Linked DNA regions of Homo sapiens. The protein of the gene in region 1 binds, or shares a complex with, the protein of each later gene. Each region holds a gene or a part of one and is shown on either strand. Other genes may lie near its edges.

Region 1 (7,025 bases):
CAGCAGGAATCAATTCACCAAAACCTTCAAAGGCAAAAAGCAGGCTGTGGACTTCTGGTGACGCAATTCACAGCCTGGAAACTGTGAGCTAGAAGTTCCTACTTCTGCTGTTGTTGTTTCTCAAGGATATTTTCTGTACATACAACAAACTAGAATTTTTTTTTTTTGAGACGGAGTTTTGCTCTTGTTGCCCAGGCTGGAGTGCGATGGTGCGATCCTGACTCACTGCAACCTCCACCTCCCAGGTTCAAGCGATTCTCCTGCCTCAGCCTCCCGAGTAGCTGGGATTACAGGCATTCGCCACCACGCCCAGCTTAATTTTGTATTTTTAGTAGAGATGGGTTTCTCCATGTTGGTCAGGCTGGTCTCGAACTCCCAACCTCAGGTGATCCACCCGCCTCAGCCTCCCAAAGTGCTGGGATTACAGGCGTGAGCTACTGCACCTGGCCAGAACTGTACTTTTTGAAAAGGGATAAGATACTCAGTTTTCATCTTGTTGCTTTATTCAGTTTGCTCCGAGGGCAAAATCAACAGTAGTAGAGATCACAAACATTATTTTGATTGGCCTCACAAGCCTCATCAGTAAAACCTGAAAAAACAGAAAATGTTACACAAGTTGCAAAGAAAGCACTCCTGGCGTTCACTGACATGATAGCAAATGGAAAGAATATAAATGCAACAGGTGTTAACATTTAGAACAGTACTTGTAAACCTGCTCATTTCTAGACAAGTCCGGGACTCTCGCTGCGAACCCTTCATCTATCACTGCTGATTTCCTTTGACATGAAATATGACTTTATGAAAATCTTCCTAAACCTCACTCTGGCTGCACCTGAGTGGTTCCTATTCCTACGGCGCTGGCATATGCTGTCAGGATTTCCACTATCTGTTTCGTTTCTAGGGTCATTCGGGCTTCCTTCAGCCAGTCCTGTGCCACTCGTCTGGATTCCCCCTTCAGCTGATTGACAAACTTTGCTGCTAGCTCCAGATCACCATGCTCAATGCAATAGGAAGCATATGACAGTAATTTAAATGTGTTTATATCCTCAGGGCAGAGCTCTGGGGGCGGCTTCAGTTGCTGAGGTGGGAATAGGAGCAGGGACTGTAGGTAGGAGAGGAAGTACTGGTACAAGCTATTTCTGGTTTCATCAATCATTGCTACCCTTCGGGCCAGTTTTTGAACAGCATAGAAACGGGCTCTAAGGGTCTCTTCACTGTACACCCCACGGGTCAGGGACTCTGGAGGGATAGCTGCGGTTAAAGCTTGGGTGAATTCATTATCAGAACAGTTGGCTTTGATGGCCTCAACTGCACTACCCAGCGGGATAGTAGGTGTTTCTGCAGATGAGGTCTTCATGCTGTACTTTAATGCCTCCACTGAAAGCCAGAGTTGGTGGGCTTTTCTGGCTTCCTCTTCAGCAACTGCATGGCCTACAAAGAAAAAAAGGCAAAGCCAAACATTTTTCTCTCCATCTGACAACATACATCCACAGAACTGATGCACATTCAACAAGCTACATCTACACATGTGCAAGATGAGGCCAGAGAGACTTTCTTACAACCCCACCCCCACCACTTATTTCTGGTGTATTTTCCTAGCTGGCCTCTTCATATCAAAGTCAGAAGTCATTCACATCTGCATGATATCTAATCCACATATTTTTACCTTTACTAGTTGAGAAAGAAACATATTATTTAAATTAGGCTAAGACTTAACGCTAAGGCCATGAGAAATTTTCTGCAAAGAAATGGGAGACTTCAGGGCCAGGCACAATGGCTCATGCCTGTAATCCCAGCAATTTGGGAGGCCGAGGTGGGTGGATCACTTGTGGTCAGGAGTTCAGGACTAGCCTGGCCAACATGGTGAAACCCTGTGTCTACTAAAAATACAAAACCTAGCCAGGCGTGGTGGCACGCACCTGTATTCCCAGCTACTCAGGAGTCTGAGGCAGGAGAATCGCTTGAACCCAGGAGGCGGAGGCTGCAGTGAGTCGATATCACACCACTGCACTCTACCCTGGGCGACAGAGCAAGACTCTGTCTCAAAAAAAAAAAAAAAAAAAAAAAAGAAATGGGAGACTTCAAACGAACTTAACAGACTACTGGATCTTGAAATTCCATGAGTATTGAATTTATTTTTATTGTTATGTGACAAAAAAAGATTCCATAACATCCTAAAAAAACCCATTTTATTAATACCCTCATTGTCATGACATTTCTCTTTCAATGTGGCACATGGAGGCCTCAGCATAAATACTGTCCATTTGGTAGTTGGACTCGGCAAATCACCACCTCCAGATAACCCACCAAGTCTGTGGAAGGCAAGCATGGGACCACACTGACCCCTAGCCCTTACCACCCAGGCACATGCGACATAGCCAAAGGATACTGGGTAAATAGCCTTGTAAATGGTGATTTTGTGTTTGTCATACAAGGTATAAATTTCTAGTTATATAGATTTTGCCATTACTTTTAATGGCAAAAACTGCAATTAAGTAGAGTGATTAGTATTTTTATGTCCTGATGTCAGTACATGTACCCCATTTTCCCTATAAAATTATTTTGATAAATTATGCTGAGGAAAATTATCTGTAAGATAAACATAGCTTATGCTTACTCTGAACAGCCTGTTCGATTCCTCTGAGTCTGGCATAGGCAGTATTTATATCCAGAGTAAAGTTGTCAACTTGCTCTTGACTGAGACGACGAAATTGTAATTCTTGTTCAGAGAGTTTCTCAGACAGGTTCTGAAATAAAACAGAAATAGTTCCAGAAAAAAGTGATACTCAATGCATGTCATGTAACTGTGTAATCTTCCAGCAACTACTTGCTGAAGCAAAGAGGGCCTTAGAGTTGTCACGAAATTCCTACATTTTGTGTAAAGTTTCAAAAATGTCCTGACTCATATTTGATGTATATAATATATTTTTTTTTTTTTTGAGATGGAATCTTGCTTTATTGCCAGGTTGGAGTGCAGTGGCACAATCTTGGCTCACTGCAACCTCCGCCTCCCAGATTCAAGTGATTCTCCTGCCTCAGCCTCCCAAGTAGCTGGGATTACAGGCATGCATCACCATGCCAATTATTGTATTTTTAGTAGAGATGGGTTTCACCATGTTGGCCAGGATGGTCTCGATCTCTTAACCTCGTGATCCGCCCACCTCGGCCTCCCAAAGTGCTGGGATTACAGGCGTGAGCCACCGTGCCCGGCCGATGTATATAATTCTTTACAGGTTTACTGATGGAACCTAATATTAGAGGAGGCATACCAAGAGAAGAGAGAAGGCTGTTAAAGTCAGAAACAAACTGCCAACTGTATTTTATTTTTGAGACAGAATCTTGCTCTGTCATCCAGGCTGGAGTGCAGTGGCACAACCTCAGCTCACTGCAACCTCCACCTCCCAGATTCAAACGATTCTCATGCCTCAGCCTCCGGAGTGGCTGGGATTACATGCATGCACCACCATGCCCAGGTAATTTTTGTATTTTTAATAGAGACAGGGTTTCGCCATGTTGGGCAGGCTGGTCTTGAACTCTTGTCCTCAAGCGATCCACCCGCCTCAGCCTCCCAAATTGCTGGGATTATAGGTGTTAGCCACTGTGCTCAGCCACAAATTGTCAGCTTTAGAAAGTAAATTATCTGTACTGCAAACCTAAACATAATAATTAGATTAAATTATATTCTAATATCTTGTATTTAAGAGCTTATACATTAATTTTTCTCAGAAAAATATCCAAATAGAATTTAAAATACCTTTTCATACTGACATACATCGCGATTCTCTGGAAGATTTTACTTAGAAAACCTCAATATCTTCTTGCAAGACAAAGTAACAAGTTAATATTACTGTAAATGATTTCTTGAATAGAAACTATGATTACAGGCATCCTGATAATTTACTGGGATTTCAAAACTTCTCTGGGAAATTACCTCAGTTATAAAAATCTAAGCAGTACCATGCCATCTATAGGAGGAAGATACACATGTCAAATATTACTGTCTGCATTCCTGAAATCCCCTTTACCAACTCTCCTTAAAGCTCTGAAGATTCCAAATGACTAGAATATATATTTTAAAAACACATCTGATCATGAACACACAGGTACACCATTATGTAAAAAGAAGCAGTTTTGTAGACATACAAGGAGATTTCCAAATCTTCGACATCCTCAGAGTACATTAAAAGGAAAGGAGAGTCTCTTAATCCTGTCAGGAAGAGGGGTGTGGCTGAAGGGAGTCCAGGTCCTCACCTGCTCAAATTCAGACTTCAATTCCTGTTCTTGTACCCTAAGGACATCTCGCAAGTGATCAGTGTGGGCAGCTGCCTGTCGGCGAAGCTGGGTTCTCATTTCATTTTCCATGGCATCTCTGACTTCTTCTATCTGTGAAACCAAACATAGTAGTTATTAGTTTTCAATTCTCCACATATACTTTTAGGAAAACAGAAAGACCACTATCAACCATGACAACAGCAGCTTCCATATCCTGAACGCCTCTAATGTGCCAGGCATGTGTACACTTCTACTTCTCATGTGAAACGGAAAACTAAACCCTGGAAGGTGATTCAAACAAGATCACACAGCTGTGGCAAAAACCAGATTTCAAACAAAGGTCTCTCTCACCCCCAAACTTGTGGTTTTTCCACATCACCAGGCTGCCTCTCATATAAAACACTGCCATTTCCTGAATCACATGCTCCTCTGAGAAATAACTAAATCCAGGATATGAAAAAAAGTAACTATATACTTGGAATCAAGCGTAGCTTTACTACAACCATCTGTGTGACCTTGGGGAAATGATTTATCTTCTCAAATCTCCACTTTCTCATTTGTGAGTAATAATGCCTACTTTGAAGAATCATTAAGAAAATTAGTTGGCCGGGCGTGGTGGCTCACACCTGTAATCCCAGCACTTTGGGAGGCTGAGGCAGGTGGCTCATGAGGTCAGGAGATTGAGACTATCCTGACTAAAATGGTGAAACCCCATCTCTACTAAAAATACAAAAAAAAAATTAGCCGGGTGTGGTGGCGGGTGCCTGTAGTCCCAGCTACTCGGGAGGCTGAGGCAGGAGAATGGCGTGAACCGAGGAGGCAGAGCTTGCCGTGAGCCAAGATTGCGCTGCTGCACTCCAGCCTGGGCGACAGAGCAAGACTCCATCTCAAAAAGAAAAAAGAAAAGAAAATTAGTAAGTATCTGGTAGTTATTGACATAGACTTGACATAGACTTCTAAACAAAGAAAACTGCTTATTTTTAAATGAATTTAAATTCAACATGGGCCAAAAAAAACCAAAAAATATACCTTGCCTAACAAATAGCCATAGGTCACTTTACAAATTACTTAACACTGATTACCTGAAATCCAGAACTTATTTTTTCTCAGAAACAATATAATAAATCAATGAATCCATTCAGTCAGTGCATAAGTATTTATGAAGTGCTACTAGCCCTGTGTGCCAGGCAGTGCCTACTATCTGTACGGATCCAATGGTGCTTAGGGCAGACGAACTTCTTGCTCTCACAGTGTATATCTCAATGGAGGCAGCAGACAGTAAACAAAAAAGACATCTGAGATTGTGATACATATTTCTACATATGACTGAGCAGGCAAGGACCTGTTGTGAAGCATCAACACCCCTTCAACCTCCTTTTCCCCCACCTTACATTTAAAATAAACAGGGCAACATAACAGAAAGTAATACAGAGACTCTACTTTGGACTGAAGGGATAGGAAATCTCAGTCTTGCTAACAAAGTGACATCTAGGCTTAAAACTTAAGCTTAGAGCTCAAGGTTTAAACAGAGAGGATAGAACAATGTACTAGGCAGAGAAAACATAAAGGTCCCAAGACAAAAGATATAGTCAAGGTACAGACAAAAAATACCAGGGTGCCTGGAGCAGTGAAATGGCTCATGGCATGCAGTGATCAAGAAGCCTTTTGGGTACTGGTTAAGAATTTGGAATTATATTAAATGAAATGGGTAGTCCATGGAGGATTTCCAGCAGTGTAGTGTCTGATTCGACTATGTTTTATTTGCCTGCGTAAATAGACACAGAAAGAAGGGTATGAAGAAAGGGCAAATTGGCTGGGCATGGTGGCTCACACCTGTAATCCCAGCACTTTGGTGTTTAAATTCCTTGGGGAAGGCCGGGCATGGTACCTCATGCCTGTAATTCTGGCGCCGTGGGAGGCCAAGGCAGGTGGATCACTTGAGGTCAGGAGTTCGAGACCAGCCTGGCCAACATGGCAAAACCCCGTCTCTACTAAAAATACAAAAATTAGCCACATGTGGTGGCATGCACCTGTAAGTCTAGCTACTCAGGAGGCTGAGAGGCACAAGAATCACTTGAACCTGGGAGGCAGAGGTTGCAATGAGCCAAGATTGCACTACTGCACTCTACCCTGGGCCACAAAGACAGACTCTGTCTCAAAAAAAAAAAAAAAAAAAGAAAGAAAAAGAAAAAATAGTGGAAGCTGTTAAGATGACAGCTTGGGCTAAGGTGGTAGTAATGGAGTGGACAGATTTGGGATTTATGTTGGATGCAAAACTGGTAGGATCTGTGGGGCAACTGAATATGAGTTGATGGAGGAACAACAAAGCATGATTTGGGCTGGAATAGCTGAGCAGATTGTTCAACTCAGTTTATTTAGAGAGAAACAAGTTGAGGGGCTGGAAGACAGGTTGGAGAGAATAAATAAATCTGTTTGGAGCATGATAAGCATGAAATGACTACTGAAAATCAAGCTGGAGATACCAGGTAGGCTGCTGGATAGGAACCTGAAGCCAAGGCAGAGGTCAGAGCTGGAGATAGACATTTATCAGGTATAGATGGTATTTAAACTTCCAAGTCACGGGACTCAACAAGAACACTTAGAGACAGTTCAGATGGAGAAAACGTTTCAGAACTAATGCCAGGTATGCCACCATTTGAGAGGCTGAGCAGAAAAGGAGGTTAAGGAGTGGCCAGCAAGGTAAGAGAAAGGCCAGAAGAGTATGGTGTCAGGGAGCCTAGGGAAGAAATAGT
Region 2 (7,105 bases), on another chromosome or scaffold:
GGCTGGAGGACACTGGCATAATCTCGGCTCACTGCAACCTCCCCCTCCTGGGTTCAAGGATTCTCCTACCTCAGCCTCCCAAGTAGCTGGGTGTACAGGTGTGTGCCACCATGCCCAGCTAACTTTTGTATTTTTGGTAGAGGCAGGGTTTCACCATGTTGGCCAGACTGGTCTTTAACTCCTGACCTCAGGTGATCTGCCCACTTCGGCCTCCCAAAGTGCTGAAATTACAGGCATGAGCCACCACTACCAGCCACTAACACTTAATCTTACAGGGACGAGAACACTTTCTAAGACCAGGCCTCAGGAATTAAATACAAATGGTCATTAAGAATATTCAACTTGCTCTAAAGAAGCTGGGGCAGATCTTCTTTGGCATCTGCTTCTCATTAAATGAACTGATTTGTTCCCTTTGGCAACTGTTTTGTTGATCTGGCAATCTTTTTCACTCACTTGCCTAAAGACAAGGTGAATTCCTCAACCCTCAAGTAACTCTGCTAACAGAAAAAGCCTCTACACCAAAACATCCTTTCTTCATACCATCACCTCCTTTCTTCAGTTTTCCTCTTTCAAACACAAGCAGAAGGAAGGACGTGGCTCTCATAACGTGGGGCTGTGCACCTTACTGTGCACCTCTGGACAAGTCATTTATCCTCTCTGATTAGTTTGCCCAGCTGGAAAAGAAAGCAGTCAGTCACCAAAGTTCCTTCCAGTTTTAAAACTAAGTGGGGCACTATCATCCCTGTCAGGACAGGTATGGGTATTGTCACAAAATTTTCAGGCTGCCTTGCATACATCATGGGGGGGAATTGCAGAAGTGAGAAAAAGTTGCTTTTTGCACCGAAAAGATCTTAATTAAAGTCCCAGAAGTTACTCAGGTTAACACCTTGGGCAAATTCCTTAACTCCTTTAAGCTCAATTCTCCATCTTTAAATACAGAGAATTTATATGTTGCAGAAGTATTTAAGAGAACTAGAAATGAAATGTACCTGTCTTATATAATACTCAAAAAACATGAGGTTTCCAATCAACTTGAAAGAAGGCACCCCCAAAGGCACTCCCCTGAACCTCTGAGGACTCCAACTTAACTTTCCAACATTCCCCAAAACAGGAGACCAAATCACAAGGGTGAGAGCACCCAAACAGAGCCAAGCTTATCTTTCTAAATTCCAATTCAGGTTCCTCCCTCTCGGCCTTCCAACACAAGCCATCTCCTCCCCCATTTAATCCTTGCCACGAGTGAGGTCCACAAAACTATACAACGCCTAGCAAGCACCAAATGTGCCAAGTACTCTGCTAGGCTAAGAAGAGAGGCCTCCACAAAGCACTCTCTCTGTGCGTTTCCTTAACACTTTCACAGACATCATCTTATCCTAGGCAGTACCTAGGATACATACACACCCAATTTTTTTTTTAATGTGGCCATTGAGGCTCAAAAGAGTTTTTTACCCAAGGTCACACAGCTAATGAGCACCTGCCAGAACTCCTGAAGTCTGTCTTTCTAAGCCACCTCCCTAATTCCTCCTTAATTAACTAATTCATCTACACCCAGCTCTGTGCGTTTCATTTAATCCTAGTCCCTTTTACTGGGTTCATTCATCTCTCCACAGTTACTTACAAAGCACCTGCAGGTGTAGACACAGGTGGAGGAAGAGGCCGAGCACAGCAACATGCCCTGGAATTGGCTTGTTTCAATCCCAGCTCTCCCACTTACTATTTACATGATCTTGGATCAGTTCGTTCACCTCTCAGTGCCTCACTTCTCCTTAATCTACAATAATGGGCTAAATAGGGCTGTTGAAAATTAAATCAGTTAACTTATAAAGGGTTTAGTCCAACGCATGGCCCCTACACTGCAATAAGAGCTGCTTTTATTCTTCTGGGTTCTGGGGACAGTCTTCAATCAGACAGGAACCTTAGCCTCAAAAAGCTTACACTCTAGCAGTAAACGCAATAAACAAGTAAACAATTATCAACAGAAGCGATCACTGTGATGAGTGCTATGAAAATAATAAATGTTGGACGCGGGGTGGGAGGTTACTTCAGATTGGGTGGTCAGGGAAGGATTCTCTGGTGATATCTGAATTACAACAAGAATTACAAGAAACAGCGGGATTTAAGGAGAGCTGAAGGAGAGAGAACAGCCGGCGCACAGACCCTGAGCTGAGCCAGCGGCACCCTCCAGGAAAACACGGCGGTCCTGAGGCTGGGGACGAGGTGCGGGTGCCACGCGAGGGAAATGGCACGAGATGCAGTCCCAGAGGGATGCAGTCCCCAGAGGTCGACGGGCAGCGGCCAGCTTTGGAACCAGGGAAGGCATCATCCAAGCGCGCTAGGAACCCACTGGAGGGTTTCAGGCAAGGAAGGGGATCAGATCTGAGCTATGGTTCTTCCTGCGCCCCGCAGATGTGCTGTGGAGAACAGGCCGGCGGGGAAGAGCTGAGTCCCCAGGCAAAGCCCAGGTGGGAGACACCGCGTACCCAGAACGAGATGCGCGCACCTGAGGGGCCACGGGCTGGGAGGCCGGGCGCAAATTCAAGAAACGTAAAAACTAAGCCGACCGGAGCCAGGACGTGGCCAGGGCGTCCCTCGTGTCCCAGGGGCCTCGCACCTGTACAGTTCTTCACTCCTCCTTCCCTGAAGCCCATGTCGCGAAGCTCCAAGGCTGCCAGCCTCGGGCTCGCGTCTCGGCTCAGCCTCTTCCTGGCCTGAGCCCCCGGAGTCTCCCAAGCCCCACGCCCCTCACGCGTGGAAAGAGCCCCGGCCCTGCGCTCCGCCCCGCACCTCCCCCCCGCGCCCGCGGCCTCCACGCCCGCCCCGGCCCAGGCGGCGCCGCTCACCCGGACACCCTGCAGCACCCGGACCCGCTCCTCCTCGTCCACTCCGAAGGACACCCTGCGGCCCTCGCTGCTCTCCGTGCTCCCCATGGCGAGATGCCGCAGGGCCGGCAGCCACCAGACCCGAGACCCGGCTCCAGAGCAACCGGGCCAACAACGCTTTCCAGGACTCGCGCGGCCGCGGCACACGCCAACAAAGCCACGTCCTATTGGCCGACGCCAGAGGCTTCACCAATCGGGTGGCGCTGAGTCGCGGTGCCTTGTGGGGATTGCAGTCCTTCCGTCTGGAGGGGTGGGGGCGTGGCGGTCTGTGCCTGCTAGAGTGCGTTAGGCTGAGGCCGAAGATGTGTACCGGCGGAGGCCCTGGAGTGGAGGGCTGGGTGCAGGACAGGGTCACGTTCTCGCTTTGGGAGCTCCCCCTTGAGGGAGAGCCAAGGGTGATGTTCTGAGGCCAGGAGACGCCGAGACGGCCAAGGCGCTCATCTGGAGGCGAATTTCTGAGGGTTCACTGCTCCATTCATTCAGCAAACACGTGTAGAGCAGCACGGGCTGAGCGCCAGACGAGCAGGGACCTGGCCCTGGCATTACAGCGCCCCTCAAGACAGCGAGTGTCCTGCCCTTGAGAGGTTTACAGTGCAAGGGGAAAACAAGTGAAAAGCCAAACACGCACGCAAGGAAACTGACTGTAATACACGGAAAACTGCATGGCGATGCCACTAGTAAAATGAACAGAAGGAGGCCTCTTTTAATTTCAGTGGCCAGAGCAACCTCTGAGGAAGAAGCTTTGAACTGAGCCGGCGGGAGAGTAGGATTTATGTAGAAAAAGGTAGGGGAAGAGGTTTCCTGGGAGTCTCAGGCAGGAAAAGAGAAAGAGGGGTCATCCCATGGCTGGAAAGTGAGAAGAGGGCAGAGGAGTGGTGAGGACCCAAATCATGTCGGGTCTTGTGAGGCAGGGTCTGAGTGTGGGTTTTATTCTAAACGCCCCGGGAGGACAGGGAATGGTCCTAAGCCGTTAGGAGGCATTGCCCAAGGAGTGTACATACCATGTGTGGAGTGCAGTGTGCCAGGCATTGTGTGTAGGCTTCTTACACAGGACCCTATGTGTAAGGGAGCACACAGACGGTTGCCAGTCATAGACACTGCTACCTTCAAATAAGCCCCTTTTTGTTCCTCTGAGTTGCTGAATGGCTTTGATTTGCAAAAGTGCGCCTGAAGCCGAGCTGAGGAAAACTAGATGGCTACATGAAATAGCCAGAAAATATTTGGAGCTCCTATTGGCAACCTGGAAAGAAAGGGGTGAGGAGGAGAGAATGATTGAGAGAGAGCAGTAAGGCTCTGAGATTGAGAATAGCTCAGGGTGAAGAAGCTAGTAAACATCCCAGAGCTGGTGTGACGATGGAATCTTTAGGAACAAAGGTGTCTGCTAGTTTCATTCAAAATACTTCATTGGCGCACCCCACTCCATCACCTCTGTCGTCCATTTCTTCCCTATAAGCAGAGCCTGCGTAGGGGATTCTGGTGCAAGGAGTTTCCTGGGGGAGCACCTCAGGAGAAAGGAAGTTAGGGAGACAGGCTAAGAGGGGTGGGGACCGGGGGCCGCGGGGAAAACTGAGTAAAGATGTGGTCAGACCTGGTCCTGGGCTTTCCTTTGTCTCTTTTCCTTGGAGGTTTATGATTACTAATTCAATCTCCTTACTCGTTATTGGTCTGTTCAGATTTTCTGTTTCTTCAAGACTCAGTTTGGATAGATGGTATGTTTCTGGGAATTCGTCCATTTCTCCTAAATTATCCAGTTTCTTGGTGTATAATTGTTCATAGTAGTTGATTATGATCTTTTGTATTTCTGTGATATCAGTTGTAATGTCTCCTCTTTCATTTATACTTTTGTTTATGTGAATTACCTTTTTTCTTGGTTAGTCTAGCTAAGGTTTGTTAATTTTGTTGATCTTTACTGTTGATCTTTTCTGTTGTTTTTCTAGTTTCTATTTCTGCTCTCATCTTTTTTATTTCCTTCAGTCTGCTGACTTTGGGGCTTAGTTTGTTCCTCTTCTAGTTCCTTGAGATATAAAATTAGGTTGTTTGATGTCTTTCTTTTTTCTTAATGTAGGTATTTTTCGCTATAAACTTCCCTCTTAAAAATGTTTCTATTGCATCCTATAAGTTGTGGTACCTTGTGTTTCCATTTTCATTTGTCTCAAGATACTTGTTTATTCCCCTTTTGATTTATTCTTTGGCTCATTGGCTGTTCAGGAATGTGTTGTTTAATTTCCGCACATGTGTGAATTTTCCAAAGTTCTTCCTATTACTGATTTCTGACAACAAACTATTCAAAAAGAAATTAAGAAAATGATCCCACTTACAATAACACCAAAAAGAATAAAATATGAATAAATTTAACCAAGGAGGTGAAAGAAAGATGCACACAAAAAATTGCACACTAAAAATTATAAGACACTGTTGAAAGATACTATAGGAGACATAAATAAGTAGAAAGATAGCCTGTGTTTATAGATCAGAAGAATTAATATTGTTAAAATGGCTTTACTACCCAAAGTAATCTACACATTCAATGTCATCATTATCAAAATTCTAATGACATTTTTCACATAAATAGAAAAAACAATTCTAACATTTCATATGGAACCACAAAAGACCCCAAATCATCAAAGCAATCTTGAGAAAGAAGCAGAAAGCTGAAGGCATCATACTCCCTGATTTCAAACTATATTACAAAGCTGTAGTAATCAAAAGAGTATGGTACTGGCATAAAAATAGATACATAGATCAATGCAGAAAAATAGAGAGCCCATGCATATATGGTCTACTAATGTTTGATAATGGTGCCGAGAATATACACACTATGGAGAAAGGAAAGTCTCTTCAATAATTGGAGCTGGAAATACGGGATATCCACATTCAAAAGAAGGAAATTGGACCCTTGTATTACACCACATAAAAAATCCATTCAAAATGAATTGAAGACTTAAATGTGAGATCTGAAACCCCAAAACTCCTAGAAGAAAACATAGGTGGAAAGCTTCTTATCATTGGTCTTGATGATAATTTTTTTGGCTATAACACCAAAAGCACAAACAACAAAAGTAAAAATAAACGAATGGTATGACATCAAACTAAAAAAGCTTCTCCACATAAGAGGAAACAAGCAGCAAACTGAAAAGGCAACCTACAGACTGGGAGAAAATATTTGGGCACCATATATCTGATAAGTGCTTAATATCCAAATATACTCTATAAGGAACTCACACAACTCAATAGCAAAAATAAATACCCAATTTAAAAATGGGCAAAGGACTTGAATAGACATTTTTCTGAAGAAGACATGTGAATAGCTAACAGGCATATGAAGAGCGCTCAACACCACTAATCATCAGAGAAATGCAAATTAAAACCATGGTGAGATATCACCTTACACCTGTGAGAATCAGTATTGTAATAAAGACAAGAGAAGTGTTGGTGAGGATGTAGAGAAAAGAGAACCCTGCACACTGCTGGTGGGAATATAAATTTGTAGAGCCATTATGGGAGAGAGTATGGCAACTCCCCCAAAAGTCAATACAATCTAATAATCCTATTTCTGTATAGTTAACTTTAGCCTAAAGCTGCTTCCTTGTAAGTTCAGCCTAAAGGTTGATCCATACATAGTGAACTGTAATCTAACTGGATGTGTAAACAGACTGTAACCTACTCTTATAACAAGTAGCCAAGTCTCAGCCAATCAGAAGACATACTACTCACAGGTGGCCAACTGTTCGGTGTTCAAATAAGTCTGTAACCCAGCTGTAACCAATCTGGCTATTTCTGTATTTCACTTCCATTTTATTTATGTCATTTTCCTTTTCCTGTCCCTAAATCCTCTCCAACCCCACTGGCAGCACTGAAGTCTCTTTGAAGCTATTCTGATTTGGGGGGCTCCCTGATTTGTAACTTGTCCTTTTCTCAAACTCTTTAATCAGTCTCAAGTTTTTCCTTTAACAGTATATATCTAAAGGAAATGAAATCTTGAAAATATATCTGCTCCCCCATGTCCATTGTAGTATTATTCAAAATACCCAAAATATGGAAACAACCTGTGTCCATCAACAGATGAGCAGATAAAATGTTTTACACACACATATATATACATACACACACACACACACACGCGTGTTTTATCCAGCCATAAAAAAGGAAATCCTGCCATTTGTGACAACATGGACGAACCTGGAGGACATTTTGCTAAGTGAAATAAGCCAGGCACAGAAAGACAA
Region 3 (7,025 bases), on another chromosome or scaffold:
AATCAAAGGAGAAAAGAAAGACAAAACCAACATGCCACAGCCTAGACAATTCCATCCAGCACTGCTGCCTCCAGATCTGTTTTCTGGCTCTCTCCACCCAGCACTGCTGCCCTCGGATCTATGTTTTCTGGCTCTCTCCTCGCCCCACTCCAATTAATTTAGCCCCCAACCCCATCCTACTTTGTTAGGGTGGAGGTTCACCAAATGATGGGGCTTGTTCAGAAGAGAAACATTTTATGGTCAGTGCAAGTTGAATAGAAAGTACCAAAAGGTGGAGAGGGCTGCCCTTCTCTTTTAATCATCATAAGAGGGTTTACTAATACTCAAGAGTGTCCTTTAATGACTGATCCCTGATCAAGGCTTTGGCCCTTCAAACTGCTGCTGTTCAAAACGTGAAATGATTCTGCTGAATCCATTCTTGATGTCTCTCTTTAGTGGTCTTCTCATTAGTGGTCTTCTCTTCAAATGGGTTGTTTTCTCACTAGGAAAAAAAATGTTCCATCTCTGGAATTAACGTTGATGGTGTTTTGCTCATTCTGAAAGTTTTTATCCTCCCTTCTCAAGCATGCTCTGCAAGAAAAACAGAAAGAGTAAGTTTTACCACCGGGAGAGGACAAAAAATAAATGGCACTAACTATTTAGTATGATTTGTGTTGCTTTTCAAATATCTAATTTTAAAAACACAGAAAACAAGGCATATGCTTCCTGTTCTCAAAATATTGCTCCTTTAATCAACACCATTGCTTTATCAATATGATCTTTAAATGACCCCTCTCACCACCACATGGGTTGAAAACCCCAACAAGGCCGGGCGCAGTAGCTCACGCCTGTAATCCTAGCACTTTGGGAGGCCAAAGTGGGCAGATCACTTGAGCCCAGAAGCTTGAAATCAGCCTGGGCAACACAATGAAACCCAATCTCTACCAAAAACAAAAACATTAGCTGGGCATGGTGGTGTGTGCCTGTAGTCTCAGTTACTCGAGACGCTGAGGTGGGAGGATCCCTTGAGCCTGGGAGGCAGAGGGTGCAGTGAGCCATGATCATGCCACTGTACTCCAGCTTGGGCAACAGTCTTTGCTGTCTCAAATAGAAAGCAAAAGTGCTCCTGGTAGGGGCATTTGGAAATGTTGGGAGCATGGCTGATGGATGCAGTGACCGGGGGAAAGCTATGGCCAAGGCAGTGCAGGGATCAAACCCCAACTCCAAAGGCTCTGAGAGGGAATCTCTTCATTAGAGAAACACAAGATTCCTTCCCAGAGGGGGAGAACGCAGATGTTCATGTGCTCATGAGGCTGGACAGAGCTACACAGATTGGTACCTATTCCCAGATTGCAGAAATGGTCCCTACATTCTATTTAGTTATTTATTTGGGAGATGAGGATGTAGATAGGAAGAATTCTTAACTATCAGATGAGAACTCTATAACCAGCTGAAATGGGGGTATACTGCCTTCATTTTTAGAGGTCTTTAAGAAGAAAAAAGTGATACTTTCCCCTCTAGTTTTGCAACCACTCAGAGAGGCAAGGTGAGGCCGAGGTTGCCTCTAGTTTATCCATTCCCACCTGCCTCCCGCCAACCCGCACCCTTCCAGCCATCTCTTCATTGAGCTCCTACCAGGTACCACTGCACTCAGTTTAGTGCATTGGGGAAACTAATACATACACCTGTGGAAAATTCAGGAATAATAAAAGGTAATAATTTGCTAATTTTTATTTATTTGCTAAATACATGCTAAAATTTATTGTGTAAACAGCATAACATTTAACAGGAACCAAATAGTATCTGGTAGAAAGTAATTTTTTCCTTCCGTTTCCCAGTTTCTGTGTCCCCTTCCAGAGATGGTCACAGTTCACAAGAGGAATGGTTCTGCCTGGTGCAGAGGGCAACCCTGTAGCTGGAGCGAGCAGGGAAGGCTTCTCCAAGGACCTTCCACCATGGAGAGAATCCAGGTGGAGGACTGGGGTGGGACTGGGAGGAGTGAGGGGAGAAAGCGGTGGCCAGGATTCAGCAGGGGAAGAAGCCTAGCACACACAGAATCCTGAGGGGAGAGGCCTAGCTGGAAGAAAGGGTACATGCTCAGGACTGACCAAGAGAAAGGGTGGAAAGAGGGCCCAGGACGGACGCCAGGCTGAGACATGTCCTGCTAGCCACAGAAAACATGGAGGAATGCTTTTACATAGGAGAATGGCATTTAGGAATGTTAACCTGACATCCTCAGCATGATGGATCCAACAGAGGGGAGTCTGCAGGCAGGAAGCCCAAGGAGGAGGCAGATTAGAAACCAGACAAAGGTGGAAACAAGAACTAGAGCTACATGGGAAGAAAAAGGGAGATGGTGACACCCAAGGTATGGGAGGATCCTTGGTGACAAAGACAGTGATGGGGCCACCAAGAGAAACAGGGAAGTCAGTGGGAGCCTGGGAAGGAGGAGGATGACTTAAATTTTGGGTTTGTGAGGCAATTTTGGGTGAGACATCCAAAATGGAAATGTCTAGAAGGACGCTGTAGGCCCTCTGAGGTCAAAGGTCTCTAGACACAACAATTTAGGGTCAAAAATTTAAAAATGATTGAAATTAAGGGGACAGAACAGAAAGAGTAGAAGTCAAACAAGATGGTGTATTGGGTCATAGGAGCAAAGGGTGGATAGATTATCCTAAAGTGTTCATCATTATAGGTTTCTAAGAAGTCTATGTCATAGGGCACAAAAGAACAGATATAAAGGCAGACAAACTTAGACATAACACACACAGTGGTGAGAAAAACAATGATTCTGTCATACAGGAGGTAAATTAGAAAAGCTAGATGCATTTAGGGAAAACAGGAAAAACAAAGTAGGTGCAGTGGAAGATTGCTCAGCAGAGAGTTGTCCTGTAAGAACTCATACTGGAATGTGAGGCACCAGCCCCATGTTCGCTGGGAAAATAACACGCTGAGCACCCACCATGTAAGAGACACCACCTGGCAGTGTCACAGCGTCACAGCATCTCAGCTATGCTCACCTGCTTATGAATTGATCTGTGTGAGCCTCTCCAATCACATAGATGATAAGTTCTATAAATTCCAGATATATAGACAACCTCACTACATCATGCTTTATTAAATACAAAATGGAAGCCAGTATCAAGCAGATCTATACTGAGCCTATCTAAGGGAATGCAGTTACTAGAGAAAGTGATCTCTTTATAAATGATGCCACTTAGCCATTTGCATTTGGGGGGGTTATAGATTCACTGCTTTCTTCAACACACTGATGGGAGCTTTGAGTTGTCATCTGCCTGGTCAAGATTACATAGCTGTACCCCTCTCTACAATTTTGGGCTTAGGGTTACAAGGATAACCACATGACAATGTACCTCCTTTCAAATATTGCAAAATAACCTGCAGCTGCCACAACTTAAGGAAAGCAACAGTTAAAGAGTGTTTTCACGAGTCTAGAGATTGTTTTTACTATTCTCTCTGCAACCTCAACCAAATATAGATGGGTAATTTTTCAGCCAAATCATATCATGCTAAGAATGTTAGGCTCTCTTTCAGAAAGAGACAAGATGGGGCCTGGCTGGTCTGAGGATGAGCAGGCCAGTCTCACATAAAGACACTAAAAGAAGTAACATTTTAATAACCCCTTTAGCCACATTCACAAAATACCGTTACATGTATTAAAATTCTAATCCTCCAAGATAGCACAGTGGTTCAGCTGATTTGTGGTGACTCCTTGAAGACATGTGGGACCACCACAGAAAAGCACCAGGGCTGATCTATAAACATTTTGTCAAACTGCACTCACTTGCTACCAAAGGGTGGCAGGGGTGGTACAAAACCATCTCAATTCTATCAGGGAAATTAACAAACACAATGGCAGGCTGGATTTTTAAAAAAGATGAATTCATCTGTCAAACATTTTGGGTTATTATTATATTCCAGCTATGCGACAAAACCTGCTCCAACTCAGAACTCAGGGCTTTTGGCTGGAGGGATCCGTAGTCTGGTGGGGTCTGTGTTATTCAGCTTTCACCTTATAGGTTCTACTGTCTCTGTATTGGTTCCGTAAGTACTGCTGTTGGGCTGAATTTCAACGCTGCATAAATTTAACACTGCATAAATTAACATAGGAAATTCCCTAAAGAATGAGGGAGAAGCTTTGCAAGTTATAAAAAATTGCTTCCTTCATTTAAGGAACTGCTAACACTTAATCTTAATGTGGAGAAAGAAATTCCTTGCTTTTGCTCATCATTCACGTATCTGGGCCTGCAGAAACTCCTTTTATAAACAGCTGGGTAAATCACCAAAAGAAGAGAGTGGTTCAGGCATGAACACTGCTCTTTTCCCAAGTCTTTTTCTCATTCCAGCCACTGAAGAACAACCGGCAGCTCACAAATAAGAACAGCGCCCCTGGAGACCTGAGATTGCGTGTCATTTCCGCTTATTAAAACCTTACTAACCATCCTAACCGCTTGCCTCAAATATTTCTGTTAAGCAGTAATCTCATCAACTGATTTTTGAATCACAGCTTTCTTGGAGGGGTTGACTATCATAGCAGCATGCCAGCTACTGGTTGTGTTGATAATTTAAGAGAAATGATGGCAACCCTGGGTTGCTAACCAATCATCATGAAGAGAAGAAAAGCGGTTTGTTTTTTAAGATACCACTCAGGGTGCTTGTCTCTGGATGAACTTACCCAGCGCCTCACCAAGACTTCAGGCCTCATAAAGCTGGGTAGAGAAGCAGGAAGGTCTACCTAACCAAGGAAAAATGAAACTGGAGATGTGTCCTGGCACAGACCTGGTCTTAAGACACGAGTTTTACTAAGGAGGGTCAGGAAAAGTGGGGAGTGGGAGACACTGGAGCTTCGATGAGGAAAAAGCCAGAATGAGAAGACTGTGCATAAGACAGGAAGGAAAAGTCATCTATAAATTGAATTTATGGGAAGCACAAAGCGAGTTTTGCCTGTGCACCAAGTACTGTTCTTCACTACCTGGAAATCTGATTAGATCACTTATTTTGTTTTCAATATGTGTCTATTCCCCTGCAGCAAGAGCTGTTTGTTCTTTGTTCCTCCTGCTTTGGAGGAAATAGAAGTTAACTTTTTTCTGCCTGGATCTTGTTTTATATCTTCTATGACAAATGCTCTGTATAATATTCAAATTAAGTTACAAGTAATTAACTGTTTATACAGCTGGCTGCAATAACAGACAAAACACTAACATACTGCAGTTCTAATTGAAGGATGACCATGGGAAAAGAAATACCTATTAAGAAAAATGAAAATCTATTACCATGGTAGTATTTCTTCTATTAAACTCAGATTTAAAAAAAGAGAAAATGTCACGAAGCAACGATTACTCTCAGAAAGTGGTTTAGAAAAGGATTCCTATGATGGAAGAGGTTGGGATAGGAAATTTAAAGTTTGGAATTTTGTTTGCTTTGATCTGACTCTAAATTCAAAGGGCTGCCCTACCAAAAAAATGGGAAATCTATTATGAAATACCCACGTGTCAGTCACCCTGTGACCAGCATCCCAGCTGGGCAATTAATAAATGTCATCAAGCGATAATGATAAAGCAGCTTTCGAACACAATAAAAACATGCTCCTGGGGGGCTTCCCAGAAAGTTAACCTTCTTGATTATCTTCGTGCTCTCTGAAAGTGGCCACCGTGTACATCGGGGGGACCCTGATGTGGGTCGGGGAGAGAAGCAGGGTGACTGGGAGCAGTAGAACCAAGGGAGGGTCTGGTCACAGCTGTGAGCTAGCCAGGGGACTGGGGTCACCTACTGTTTCAATGGGAGCAAGAGAAGAGGGGAAGGGGATCTCTTTTCAAGGCTTCCATCTGATTCCCACATCATCTTCCAATTTGTTCTTAAGGCTAAAGATTCATTCCTAGGGTTGGTCTGATGAGACCTCTGCCAGGTAGCTTTGACCTATAGGGAGTGATAGCTCCCCATCTCCCAAAAGATGGAAAACAAGGACTTGGCAGGACCTCTGAAAGGTCAAAGACCTTTAATGCAATTCAGGCCAATGGGCTCTAAGAGCAATGGTTTTCAAACTTTGGGTACAGAGTCTCCTGGGAAATTTGGTCAAAGTTCAGATGCCCAGGCCTCACCCCAGACCTTCTGAATCAGAATCTCCAGGGATGGGGATTGGGTGGGTACATTTTAAGCAAACCCCTCAGGGGATTCTGATGCTCACCCACATCTGAGATCTGACACGACAGGAAAAATACCCTGGTTTTGAATTTAAGAGTGGGCTGTTTGGTCTGGGTTCTGCCCTTCTACAGATCATTTAAATTCTCTGGAAGCTAATTTTGCACATGAAAAAAATGAGGTTGGGTTATATGATCTCTAGGGTCCTTTTAGCTCCAACAGCCTATAAGTCTATTAAATCATTTGCATCTAATGTAGAGTTCATCTGAAAACAATGATAACATACAGCTTGCTCTGGCAATAGGTTTTTCTTTCAAGAACCTTGATTTTTAAGCAAAAGCTACTACTATGTTTTCAGGACCCCTTCATACTCAAAATATGTCACAGACTTAGGAGCAGAATCCTGGTCTAATATAAATACAGTTCACCGGGGAGATGAAATTGTCCTTCAGAAGGCGGACAGAAATTGTGCCAGGGCAAATTCCTCCATATGCACTGATCTTGAGGCTTTGACTTAGGAAGCCAACCAAATACTGGAGATGTCAATGATATTTTAGAAACGAGACAACGGGGTGCACTAGCCTTAAGTTGGAGAGCTGTCACATTAGGATCTAGCCTCATTTACTGGGTCCTGACCCCAAGTTCCTCACTGTGGCCAGGTTCCTTTCTGATCTCTCCAAAGAGATCAGCAGGAAGCATGTAGGTCTGAGGTGGGGCTGTCTCATTTACAAGACGTCCTTATTGTGAGCTGAACTAACTGTTTGCGTGGCTACTGTCCCACTGCCTGCTTACTGACTGAAACTTCTGCTATGGTTTGGGGGACCCCTGACAGACTCATCATCTAACTGCAGGTCCCACACTGACCTCTGTCCCTTGGGCATCTCCTG

What was found.
Region 2: IMMT (region 1) and CHCHD6 share a complex: the UniProt entries of both Homo sapiens proteins name them as parts of the mitochondrial contact site and cristae organizing system (MICOS) complex.
Region 3: IMMT (region 1) and CHCHD3 share a complex: the UniProt entries of both Homo sapiens proteins name them as parts of the mitochondrial contact site and cristae organizing system (MICOS) complex.

What each region holds. Positions count from the first base shown.
Region 1 is NC_000002.12:86,143,451-86,150,475, forward strand, and holds the end of IMMT (MICOS complex subunit MIC60), read right to left. Parts: intron 4,384-7,025; coding exon 4,252-4,383; intron 2,748-4,251; coding exon 2,618-2,747; coding exon of another isoform or gene 2,586-2,617; exon of another isoform or gene 2,110-2,585; intron 2,038-2,109; coding exon of another isoform or gene 1,920-2,037; intron 1,432-1,919; coding exon 818-1,431; 3' UTR 486-817; downstream 1-485. UniProt on the Homo sapiens protein: Component of the MICOS complex, a large protein complex of the mitochondrial inner membrane that plays crucial roles in the maintenance of crista junctions, inner membrane architecture, and formation of contact sites to the outer membrane.
Region 2 is NC_000003.12:126,700,135-126,707,239, reverse strand, and holds the start of CHCHD6 (MICOS complex subunit MIC25), read right to left. Parts: upstream 3,001-7,105; 5' UTR 2,928-3,000; coding exon 2,841-2,927; intron 1-2,840. UniProt on the Homo sapiens protein: Component of the MICOS complex, a large protein complex of the mitochondrial inner membrane that plays crucial roles in the maintenance of crista junctions, inner membrane architecture, and formation of contact sites to the outer membrane.
Region 3 is NC_000007.14:132,785,091-132,792,115, forward strand, and holds part of CHCHD3 (MICOS complex subunit MIC19), read right to left. Parts: intron 571-7,025; coding exon 547-570; 3' UTR 1-546. UniProt on the Homo sapiens protein: Component of the MICOS complex, a large protein complex of the mitochondrial inner membrane that plays crucial roles in the maintenance of crista junctions, inner membrane architecture, and formation of contact sites to the outer membrane.